Linked DNA regions of Homo sapiens: region 2 is linked to region 1. The links come from fine-mapping of genetic effects on gene expression. A gene starts in region 1. The other region holds a variant in brackets. All regions are shown on one strand. Distances are from middle to middle. Region 1 holds the start of PPP1R3E (protein phosphatase 1 regulatory subunit 3E). Region 2 overlaps RNF212B (ring finger protein 212B).

What was found.
Region 2: its variant is fine-mapped to the expression of PPP1R3E in whole blood (TOPMed, PIP above 0.99).

Annotation. Positions count from the first base shown.
Region 1 is chr14:23,300,464-23,305,840 of GRCh38, forward strand. PPP1R3E (protein phosphatase 1 regulatory subunit 3E) reads right to left here and starts at 2,396. Exons shown (of 5, transcript NM_001276318.2): 1 at 1,697-2,396; 2 at 835-1,395; 3 at 295-401. The coding sequence starts at 2,113. The coding sequence ends at 973. RefSeq lists an enhancer at 843-1,032 and silencers at 1,093-1,522, 1,533-1,592, 1,673-2,182.
Region 2 is chr14:23,256,534-23,261,910 of GRCh38, forward strand. It overlaps RNF212B (ring finger protein 212B), which reads left to right. Exons shown (of 15, transcript NM_001282322.3): 5 at 2,016-2,131; 6 at 3,351-3,411; 7 at 4,126-4,154. It also overlaps the pseudogene RNU6-1046P. Among named protein-coding and RNA genes, the nearest start is that of RNF212B, 21 kb to the left of the region's middle. The variant G/C (reference allele first, on the strand shown) is at 2,588.

The DNA of each region.
Region 1 (5,377 bases):
AGAAGTGAGAGGTAACTCGCCCAAAGTTATATAGCTAGTCAGGGACTTCCTCTTCGGAGACAAAGGAAATCAGAATAGTGATTCTTCTGATTCACCGTCCCTCGACAAACAGTCCACAAAGTGCTTGGAGGTTATTAAAAGGCACCCCAGAAAAGTAAGGCTGGCATTTTCCTGGAAGCCCCTGAGTGTACAACCCCTGAGGCTCAGTATTTGGCTATAAAAACAGGTCTGGAGTTGCTTTGGCCTCCGTTTTAATCCCTAAAGCTGCCTGGAGGCTGGAGCTCTGATAGCTACCTGTCATCACTCCCCAGCCAGTCCGCGGACACCGCAGCCAGGAACTGTCAGAGGTGACAAGGGAATCCCGTCATAATGCCAAGGACCAAGGAGCAGTGGCCAGGTTCCTGGGATTAAGCAAGGCAATTATGGCTGAGTTAAAGCTAGGATGGGTAGGACAGGGGGATCTGAGGTGGAAAAGGCCGGTAAGAAGAGGGAATGCGCCAGCAATGTAAATGCCTTCGACTGGGTGGGCTACTTCACATCATACCTCCTCCATCTCCAAAAGGTTCTTAACCTTCTTCAACCGCCTAGGCCTGATGGACCTCCTCCCTTTCTCCCAGAGCCCACTCACTGAAGGGAAGGCCACCATCATCCCCATTCTTTTCCTTTTTTTATAATCCCTCCGGTGCCGTTTCGGGTCTCCTTCCTCCTATATTCTGAGTTCCTTCCACTCACATCCAACCAGCTTTTAACACCCGGATCTCCCGGAGCTTCTTTGGTTCCGCTCACTCCCCCCGCCCCCACGCCCCCACGCCCCCACGCCCCTGATTTCCCCACCCTTTTCGCCCTCCCCGGCTTGACTCCCTTGGACCGCTCCCGCCAATCCTGGTCTCTCCTACTCCTCCCCGCCACATCGGGTCGCCCCGCCCCCGGGTGCCTTTGGTGTTTTCCGCCGTCGGCCGCAGGCGCCTCGTCTCAGATAAAGTGGATCCAGCCCTGCGGCTCCGGAGCTCCGCCACTGCCCGGGTGCTCGGGCCCACGTAGAGCATAGTCACGGCCGCCGTTGTTGTCCCAGAACTCGTGACCTGTCACACGGTAGCGCAAGGCGAAGAGCAGGGCGCCCCCAATCGGCGGCGCGGGCAGGCGGAAGGCGAAGCGGTCGGCGCGCGGCGGGGGCGGGGCCGGACCGGCGTAGGCGGCTGGCGCCTCGCGTTGGCTCCGCCAGCCGTCGGCGCTCCAGCGCACGCTCACGCGCTTCTCGTAGGCCAGGTCCACCACGCGCGCGCTCCCGGCCACGCCCAGCGGGCCCGCCTCGGCGCGTTCCAGGCAGATGCGCTGCGTCAGCAAGCGGGCGGCGAAGCCGGGCTCGCTGGCCGGCTCCAGGGCGGCGCGCGCCTCCTGGGGGAAAGAAGAAGCGGGAGGAGGGAGCCCAGGGCGGAGAGAGGGGAGAGACAGGGGGCGGTGTCAGAGCAAGGCACTGGACCAATCAGAGGCCGACCCCGGCGTCCAGGCCGGCAGAGTGCGGCCCAGCTGCCAGGGTGGCCTAGAGCCACTCGCAGATGGGGTCCCCAAAAGGGATGGGCAGGCGCAAGCCCAGGGATGGGATGGAGATGGGTGCTCTTTGGCAAATCCACTCCCACAAGCCCGCTGCGGCCGACTGGAGGAGGTCCCCAGGAGGGGAGGTGCCCCCGCCGCCTACCTGGAGGCCGCGGGCGCGGGGCTGGCAGGGCGCGAAGTGGCGGAGGGCGTCCCTCTGCAATTGGATCTGCACGTGGCGGGGCACCCGGGGCAGCTCACCGGGACGGAAGCGGCGCACGACAGCCAGCTCCAACCCCAGTGCGTCGGCGAAACGCACTCTCTTGCGGGTGTCTGGGCTACGGCTGCGGGGCGCCCGGGCCCCGCCGCCTCCGGCTGGTGCAGATCGGGCCCGGCGGCCCCGACTCGGTGCGTGAGCGCGGGATCGGGCCCCGAACCGCGTCCCGCCCTCGCCTGGCTCCTCCTCCGGCTCCTCCTCGAGGCTGGGCCGCTGGCTACGGTAGTAGGCGCGCTCCGTTAGCGCGGCGATGAAGCTCAGGTTGCGGGGAATGTCGGTGCCCGGGGGCCGCTCACGGGACATGGCAGCCCCTTCCCCGGCGGGGCCAGCTCGCAGCGCCACCGCGCTCCCCTCTCTTCCTCTCTCCCGCCCGCCCCGCGTCAGCGCAGAAGTCGCTGGGTCCGCTTCTGCAGCCCCTCGCTGCTGTGTATTCTCCTTGCAGACACCTCCAGGATCCTCCACCTCCCGTTGCTTTGCCTCTCCTCTGTGACCACCCTTCCCTCCCTCTGGCCGTCAGCTTCCAGGGTCTTAGACTATCACATCCTGCCTCCTGCTAGCGGTCTGCTCTGAGCGTGCGCTCAACTGCACTCACCCTCCGGTTCCAAGGCCCTCACGGCCCGGGCGCCCCCGCCCACAGCCCTCTGACAGGTGGCTCCGCTTGTCTTCGCTGCTGCACCAGGGGGCGGGGACTCCACCTTTGCGGTCCCGAGTGAAGCTACTCAACCTTTTAAAAAAAACATCCACGGACGGGACGCGATGGCTCACGCCTCAAATCCCAGCACTTTGGGAGGCCGAGGTGGGAGGATCGCTTGAAGCCTGGAGTTCAAGACCAGCCTGGGCGTCATAGTGAGACCCCTGATCTCTACAATAATAATAATAATAAAATGTAAAAAGTCCTCAACTTTTCCGGCACAGCACAGGAAAGGTTAACGCCGGGAAGAAAAAATAACCTTTCATTTTCTTGCAGGGGAAGGTTCAAAACGCCCAGCATGTGACTTTATCTTTGGGGTTCACTGTTTTCTTTTCTGAAACCTAGGCTCCTGGTTTGGGCAGGGGGTGGTGGTGCGTGCAAAGAAGGAAAGGTCATGAAAGCTAGGTAGAGTCTTTCAAATAGAAGGTGAGAATATGGCACCCGAACTGAGAACTGCAGGAAGACCTAGCTTCTAGTGACCTTGAGCAAGCAAGGCATAACTTCTCTGGAGTCAGTGTTCTCGTGTGTGTGTGTGTGTGTGTGTGTGTGTGAGTGTGAGATGGAGTCTCGCTCTGTCGCCCAGGCTGGAGTGCAGTGGCGTGATCTCGGCTCACTGCAACTTCTGCCTCCCCGGTTCAAGCGGTTTTCCTGCCTCAGCCTCCTGAGTAGCTGGGATTACAGGCGTCCACCACCACGCCCGGCTAATTTTTGTATTTTTAGTAGACACGGGGTTTCACCATCTTGGCCAGGCTGGTCTTGAACTCCTGATCTCAGGTGATCTGCCCGCCTCGGCCTCCCAAAGTGCTGGGATTACAGGTGTGAGCCACCCCTGAACTCAGAGCCATACTCTGAACTCAGTGTTCTTATCTGTAAAAAAGTGGTGGAGTTCTGATTTCTAATCCAAGTGTAAGCCCTTTGAGGGCAGGGGCTTTGTCTGATTCATGGTGAGTTTTAGTATATGGTAGGCACTCAAATTATTGAATGAACAAGCACCCAACAACTCTCTTGGAGTTGGGACTGTGGAATTATAGGTCCAGTGGGAGCTTCCAAGAAGGGCAGAGCTGGCTTTTTCCCCTTTCATTTTTTTTTTTTAACATTAGTGAAAAAAAAAAGTGAAGTTGTTTTTAGTTTTTTTCTAACTTTCCTACTGATCTAATATAGCACTTACAATGTGCTAGGTACTGTTGTAAGGGTTTTACAAATACTAACCCATGTAATACAACCATCAGAGGAATAGAGACTATTATGTCTAGTTTAAAGATGAGAGAATTGAGGGAGAGAGGGGAGAGGACTCTTACCCAGGGTCACATAGTTAATAATTGGGGAGGTGGGATTAGGACCTAAACAGTTTAGCTCTAGAGTCCACGCTCTTACCCGCTTGGTTATATAAGATTAAAACATTTAACAATAATAGTTAACATCCTCAGAGTGTTAAAAGAGGGAATATTAGAGTAGAAATGAAGTCTCTAAATTTAAAGCAGCAGGATAGTTTAACTGTAAAACCACAAGTGACTAAGTTGAAAATAAACCATGAGACACATGTTATCTTATTATTATACAATTCATTCCTGTTTACATGCATTCGCACTAGTATTGACTGTAGCAATACTAGTTAGCTAGGACTCATTTTTAAAGCAATATTGACTTTTTAAATTTTACACGTATATAGAATGCATGGATGTATTCTCTTCGTATCATTATATGTGATACAATATATACAATGTATATATTGTATATGCATATACAATATAATATATATAATGCATATAAATTAATGTCTAATAAATCATACATTAATTTATGTTACAATCAAGCTGGCCCAGGAGTTTGAGATCAGTCTGGGCAACATAATGAGATCCCTATCTCTATAAAAAATGAATTTAACCAAGCATGGTGCAGTACACCTCTAGTCCCAGCTACCAGGGAGGCTGAAGTGGGAAGATTGCTTGAGCCTAGACGGTGGAAGCTGAAGTGAACTGTGCTTGTACCACTGCACTCCAGTTTAGGCCATGGAGTGAGAACCTTGTATCACAAACAAACAAATAAACCAGGAGTGCAAATGAAGACTTGGACTAGGTTATTCTCTAAAGAAGAGGGCAACCTTGCTGGTGGCAGCCAGAATGATCAGGCTAAGAGCAAAAATGAAATGAGGATGGTTGAAAGGATACAGCCATAAAGGAGTGTAATAGGCTGTGTGTTTAGAATAGAGGAGAGAATTGAGTATGGACTTGTAAATGGTGTGGATTCAGACTATGAGAACCATATTGACTATGTGAAGGCAAGAGGTGATCTTGAAGCGATAGTGTCAAAGTTACAGCATGAGATGGCTGTGCTAGCTTCTTACATATCAGCCTATGGCTTTGGGAAAATCACTTAACCTCTCCAAACCTCAATTTCCTCATTCATAGAATGAGGATAAAACAGCATAAGGACTGGTGAGAGGAAAAAATACACATGTAAAAAAAGCACAGCATCTAATAACTCCTCAAAATATGTTAGTTTTTACCTTTTTTTTTTTTTGAGATAGAGTCTCGTTCTATCACCCAGTCTGGAGTGCAGTGGCATGATCTCAGCCTCCTGGGTTCAAGTGATTCTCATGCCTCAGCCTCCTGAGCAGCTGGGATTACAGGCTGGCTAATTTTTGTATTTTACGTCTGGCTAATTTTTGTATTTTTAGTAGAGATGGGGTTTTGCCATGTTGGTCAGGCTGGTCTCGAACTCCTGGCCTCAAGTGATCCACCCGCCTTGGCCTCCCAAAGTGTTGGGATTACAGGTATGAGCCACCGAACCCAGCTAGTTGTTACTGTTATTGCTGCAGAAAAGACCTTGCTTCTCCAGTGACCATAAGGGAAGATGGTAATACAGAGGCTTGGATT
Region 2 (5,377 bases), 44 kb before region 1:
GCTAATTTTTGCATTTTTAATAGAGACGGGGTTTTGCCATATTGGCCAGGCTGGTCTCGAACTCCTGACCTCAAGTGATCTGCCCACCTTGGTCTCCCAAAGTGCTAGGATTACAAGCATGAGCCACCACGCCTGGCCTCCTCTATTCAAATTTTCTAAAATAATTTTTTTAAGTTGGGCTGTTGCTCTGTTGCCCAGACTGCAGTGCAGAGGCACGATCATGGGTCCCTGCAGCCTCAAACTCCTGGGTTCAAGCAATCCACCCACTTCAGCCTTTCAGGTAGTTGAGATTACAGGAATGTATTATCACGCCTGGCTAAATTTTTTAAATTATTTTTTGGCCGGGCATGGTGGCTCACACCTGTAATCCCAGCACTTTGGGAGGCTGAGGCAGGTGGATCACGAGGTCAGGAGTTCGAGACCAGTCTGACCAACATGGTGAAACCCTGTCTCTATTAAAAATACAAATATTAGCCAGGCGTGGTGGCGGACGCCTGTAATCCCAGCTACTCAGGAGGCTGAGGCAGGAGAATCGCTTGAACGTGGGTGGCGGAGGTTGCAGTGAGCTGAGATCGTGCCATTGCACTCCAGCCTGGGCGACAGAGCGAGACTCAGTCACACACACACAAAAAAAATAAAATAAAATAAATCAAAATTATTTTTCATAGAGACAGGGTCTTGCTATGTTGCTTAGGCTGGTCTCAAATTCCTGGCCTCAAGCAATCCTCCTGCCTCAGCCTTGGCTTCCTGAGTCTCTGAGATTATAGGCATGATCACCATGCCTGGCTTAAAGTAAACATTTTCTTTTCACAGCTTAAAATAAACATTTTAGTTTTATTAAAAATGAGGGTTTAAAAAAATAGACTAGAGTAAATTCTTATCTATCTAAAACTAGTTTAGTTTACTTTCAAGTAGAAAGGAAACTCTTAAGTACAATTCTTTAGTAAGGTGGCAAGAGCAATTTGAAAATTAAGTGAGAACAAAAAGTTTATGAGAAGAGTACCAAGATCTAGGAAAGGACCCTAGACAAAAGAGGGTTTATAGTCTGAACAGGGAGGAAGCAGATGAGACGTAAATACTGCTGTGTACTCAAAAGTAGAGCCTGACAAAGCTAAAACACTTTCTAAATATTAACTTTTGATCCGATTCAGCAATCCCATGATAGACACATTAGTATAGCAAATGGTAAAGTGAGGCAAAATAAAAAATTACGTGTGCATGCCCAGAAAAAAAATTCAAGCATAGGTAATCTCCTTCTGTGCCTCTCCACCCTTTCCTATAGCAGCATAAGCAGCCTGCAGGTGACTCTGTAGGTGTCTTTAGGGAAAATAAATTGGTCACCAAGGCTGTGTAATAGCTATGAATGTGGAGGCTGATCCAAACTAATAGTTGACAAGTTAGAACCAATTCTAAGCTTGAAAAACAGTTTTAAAAAAAATCTCTCTTCTTGCACGGGATGAAAAATTATATATTTAAAGGGTCATTCTACTATGGTAGAATATTCTCATTAAGATAGTAAAAGGGGCCGGGTGCGGTGGCTCACGCCTGTAATCCCAACACTTTGGGAGGCTGAGGTGGGTAGATCACCTGAGGTCGGAAGTTCAAGACTAGCCTGACCAACATGTAGAAACCCCGTCTCTACTAAAAATACAAAATTAGCTGGGCGTGGTAGCACATGCCTGTAAACCCAGCTATTCGGGAGGCTGAGGCAGGAGAATAGCTTGAACCCAGGAGGCAGAGGTTACGGTGAGCCGAGATCGCACTATTGCACTCTAGCCTGGGCAACAATAGCGAAACTCTGTCTCAAAAAAAAAAAAAAAAAAGACAGTAGAAGGCTAGTGTCCTGGAAATGAGTGCTGAGCTCTCTAGTTCTGGGAAGTTGTGAATTAGGCCAGATGTTCTAGAAGAAAATGAGCAGTATAATAAAGTGTGATTTGATGGCTTCCCTTTCTTGCCAGAAGTGAAGGGAAAGGAGTTATGGGAGAGTATGTCAAAGGCTTGTTTTTCCCTAGTAGGTGTGGAGTTTCCAGAAGAAACAAACAGATCTCCTCATCGCCTTTTATAAGCATAGAATTACAAAGTTAGAAACAGCCATGCAGGAGGCACAGCAAGCACTGGTGAGCCAGGACAAGTAAGTAACAAATCAAGTCCCAAGAGAGCTTTTTTTTTTTTTTTTTTTCTAAGAAGTGACAGTCCTTATTGTGTTTGCAAAGCCTGGAAATTGCTCCATATGTATTTGTTTGTTTGGGAAAATCAGGTACAGAATTTTTGATCCCCTGAATCTCCATTTTTTCTCTTTCTTCCCTCCAGAGGCCCTCCTCACTTTATAGTTTTCCTCTTCTATTTCTCGGTATCAAAAACTGCTTCCCAGACCAGGTGCAGTGGCTCACACCTGTAATCCCAGCACTTTGGGTGACCGAAGCAGAAGATCACTTGAGGCCAGGAGAAGATCAGCCTGGGCAACACAGCGAGACTCTGTTTCTAAAAAAAAAAAAATTTTAAACAAAAATTAGCCAGACATGGTGGTTCACACCTGTAGTCCCAGCTACTTGGGAGGCTGAGGCCAGAAGATCGTTTGAGCCCAGGA[G/C]TCTGAGTTACAGTGAGCTATGATCACACCACGACACTCCAGCGTGGGTGAAAAAGTGAGACACTGTCTCAAAAACAAAAACAAAAAAAAACATCTGCTTCCTTGGGAAATCAGATATAGCTGATTCACACTGATAACACTCATTGTAGCCTCAATCTCCTGGGCTCAAGCAATCCTCCCACCTCAGCCTCCCAAGTAGCTGGGACTACAAGTGCACACCACTATGCCTGGCTAATTTTTGTATTTTTTTTTTTTTTTTGTAGAGAGGAGTCTCTGCATATTGCCCAGGCTGGTCTGGAATCCTTTTTTTTTCTTCTTTTAAAGTTTTTTTTGTTTTTTTTTTTTATGGAATGCTTCAAGCATTTACATGTTAACTTTCTTTGGGGGCTATGTTAATCTCCTCTGTATTGTTCCAATTTTAGTGTATGTGCTGCCAAAGCAATCACAAGATGGAGTCCTTGATAAAAATTTTTAGACATCAGCAGGCCAGGGGTGTGTGTGTGGGTGGAGAGAGGAAATGGAATTCTTTGCAAATTCCCCTGAAATCATACCAAGTAATTGCTTATTTTGTCCACCTAATTGTTCTCATTATCAAAACCCTGCCATTAGTCTCCTTGAATCATCAAATCCCTGATAGAAATAGCTTGTATAGCTGCAAGCATTTCTCAGTAAGTATTAACTAGATGTTAATAGTTATAATAATAAAAAATCAGGTTTTTAATCCCTGATTTGCTGGAGCTGATTGTTTCCATCTTTTGCCTAGAGAATTGTCAGTCTTAAGGAAGGAGAATGGAGAACTGAAGAAATTTCTAGCCATTCTAAAGGTGAATGAAATAGATTTTCCTTATTATTATTTTCTCTCTTACTTTTCTCATCTATCTAGCTGACTGTATAGAATAGTGTTTCCTAATCTTTTTCTCATCATGGCACACACAGAAATTGATATTTGTATAACAAGCACACTATAGTAAATGGATGAGGTCTCAGCAGACCTTGGGGGACTGAAAGGATCAATATATAGCACACTTGTAACCCATTCCTGAACATCAGTGAGTCATGACCTACCAGTTGGAAAGCTCTCTTATAGAAGAGACAGCTGTTGCAACTTAAACATTTCTCTTCAAGAAACTCAAAGATACCTCAGGACCCTTCCTCTGCATCACACTCTACTTCCTAAATAGTTTTTCTTCCTAAGAATGTTCTGTGTATTTATATAATTTTCCTATTGATCCTACTCCTGTAATTATTCTAGCACATTGTAGTGTGTCATTTTCCTTTCTCTCACCAGAGACTCCGTATTTCCCCACATATGTTAGTCTATGGGATTCCGTATGCACTCTTATGAAGAACTAAACTTTTATCCCCTCAAAGCTAATAATATCCTAAGGAAATACTGCTGCTACTTTTCCTCCTACTGGGAGTCTTAGCAACCATGACTAAGGGGCACTGAGCTTAGTTATCTCGCAAGTAAGACTGAAGATCTGTTGATTAGGATCCTCAGTTGCAGCTTTCTTCACTCCTGGTTTTTTCACCTATAGGAATCTCCAAGTCGGTACCAAGGAAGCAGGTCAGTTTTATCAGCTCCCATACTAGCCCAGCCCCCTGAAAATTCCTGTTCTTTCTTGACTCCTGGCTGTGTGAACTCTGAGAGAGAGAAAATGGTTAATGAATTTAGCTTTCACTTCTCCGAGGAAGAGTTAGTTACTGAAAGTGCCGAAGTAAAATCTTAATTGTAATGCTCACCCTGGATTGTCATCTTATGAAATCCTAGTGTTTGAAATGCTTGTTCCCTGGTGCCATAAAGAAATAGCATTTGAACATAAATTTAATTTACTCAGCAAGGTCATTTTTACTTCCTGCAGAAAGGGTACACTCGCCGGCAGTTTTGCCACGAGAGTACACTGAACAAAGGAGACAGGGTCGTTCATAACCTGACGCGTCTACCTTACTGCTGTGTCCGGTTTCCATTGGCTGGAACCAGACCTCACATTCTGTATTTGTTCCGATTGGCTAGCAACTTAGAACTTATGAAAAGGGGCAAAGGTAGAGGAGAACAAAGGAAGGAGGAAGTAACTTGTGGAATGCTGAGAAAGGTAAAAACACCTTCAAATAAGGAAGAGGAACAGACTATAACCTAATGCTTGTTTGGACCAATCTAAGCATGCCAGGGCAAATATTTAGGCTAAATTGTGGGAGCTAAGAACATAAAGTACATTGATTTCTTTATTACGGCTAGCAGATATTTAAGAATGTTAGTACAGGTCTTTAAATAAATTTTGCTTTTAAGAGAAGTTACTATTTATTCCTAATTAGATGAAGAGGAAAGTCTTTAAAGAGGAACCTCCACCTTACTTTTTACACTACTCATCCTTCAAAATTGAACTCAGTCATTTCCTCTGTGAAGACTGCATTAGGTGGAGTTAGATGGTCTGTTCATTCATTCAATATTAAGTGCCTACTGTTTATCAGGTACCATGTTACAGGCTGGATATATACCACCGGTCCTTTCTAATTAGTGATATCTATGCTCTACCAACTCTTAAATATATTTTTAGTATCGGCTGGGTGTGGTGGCTCACACCCGTAATCACAGCACTTTGGGAGGCCAAGGTGGGCGGATCATGGGGTCAGGAGATTGAGACCGTTCTGGCTAACATGGTGAAACCCCATCTCTACTAAAAATACAAAAACAAAATTAGCCGGGCGTGGTGGAGGACACCTGTAGTCCCAGCTGCTCGGGAGGCTGAGGCAGGAGAATGGCGGGAACCCAGGAGGCAGAGCTGGCAGTAG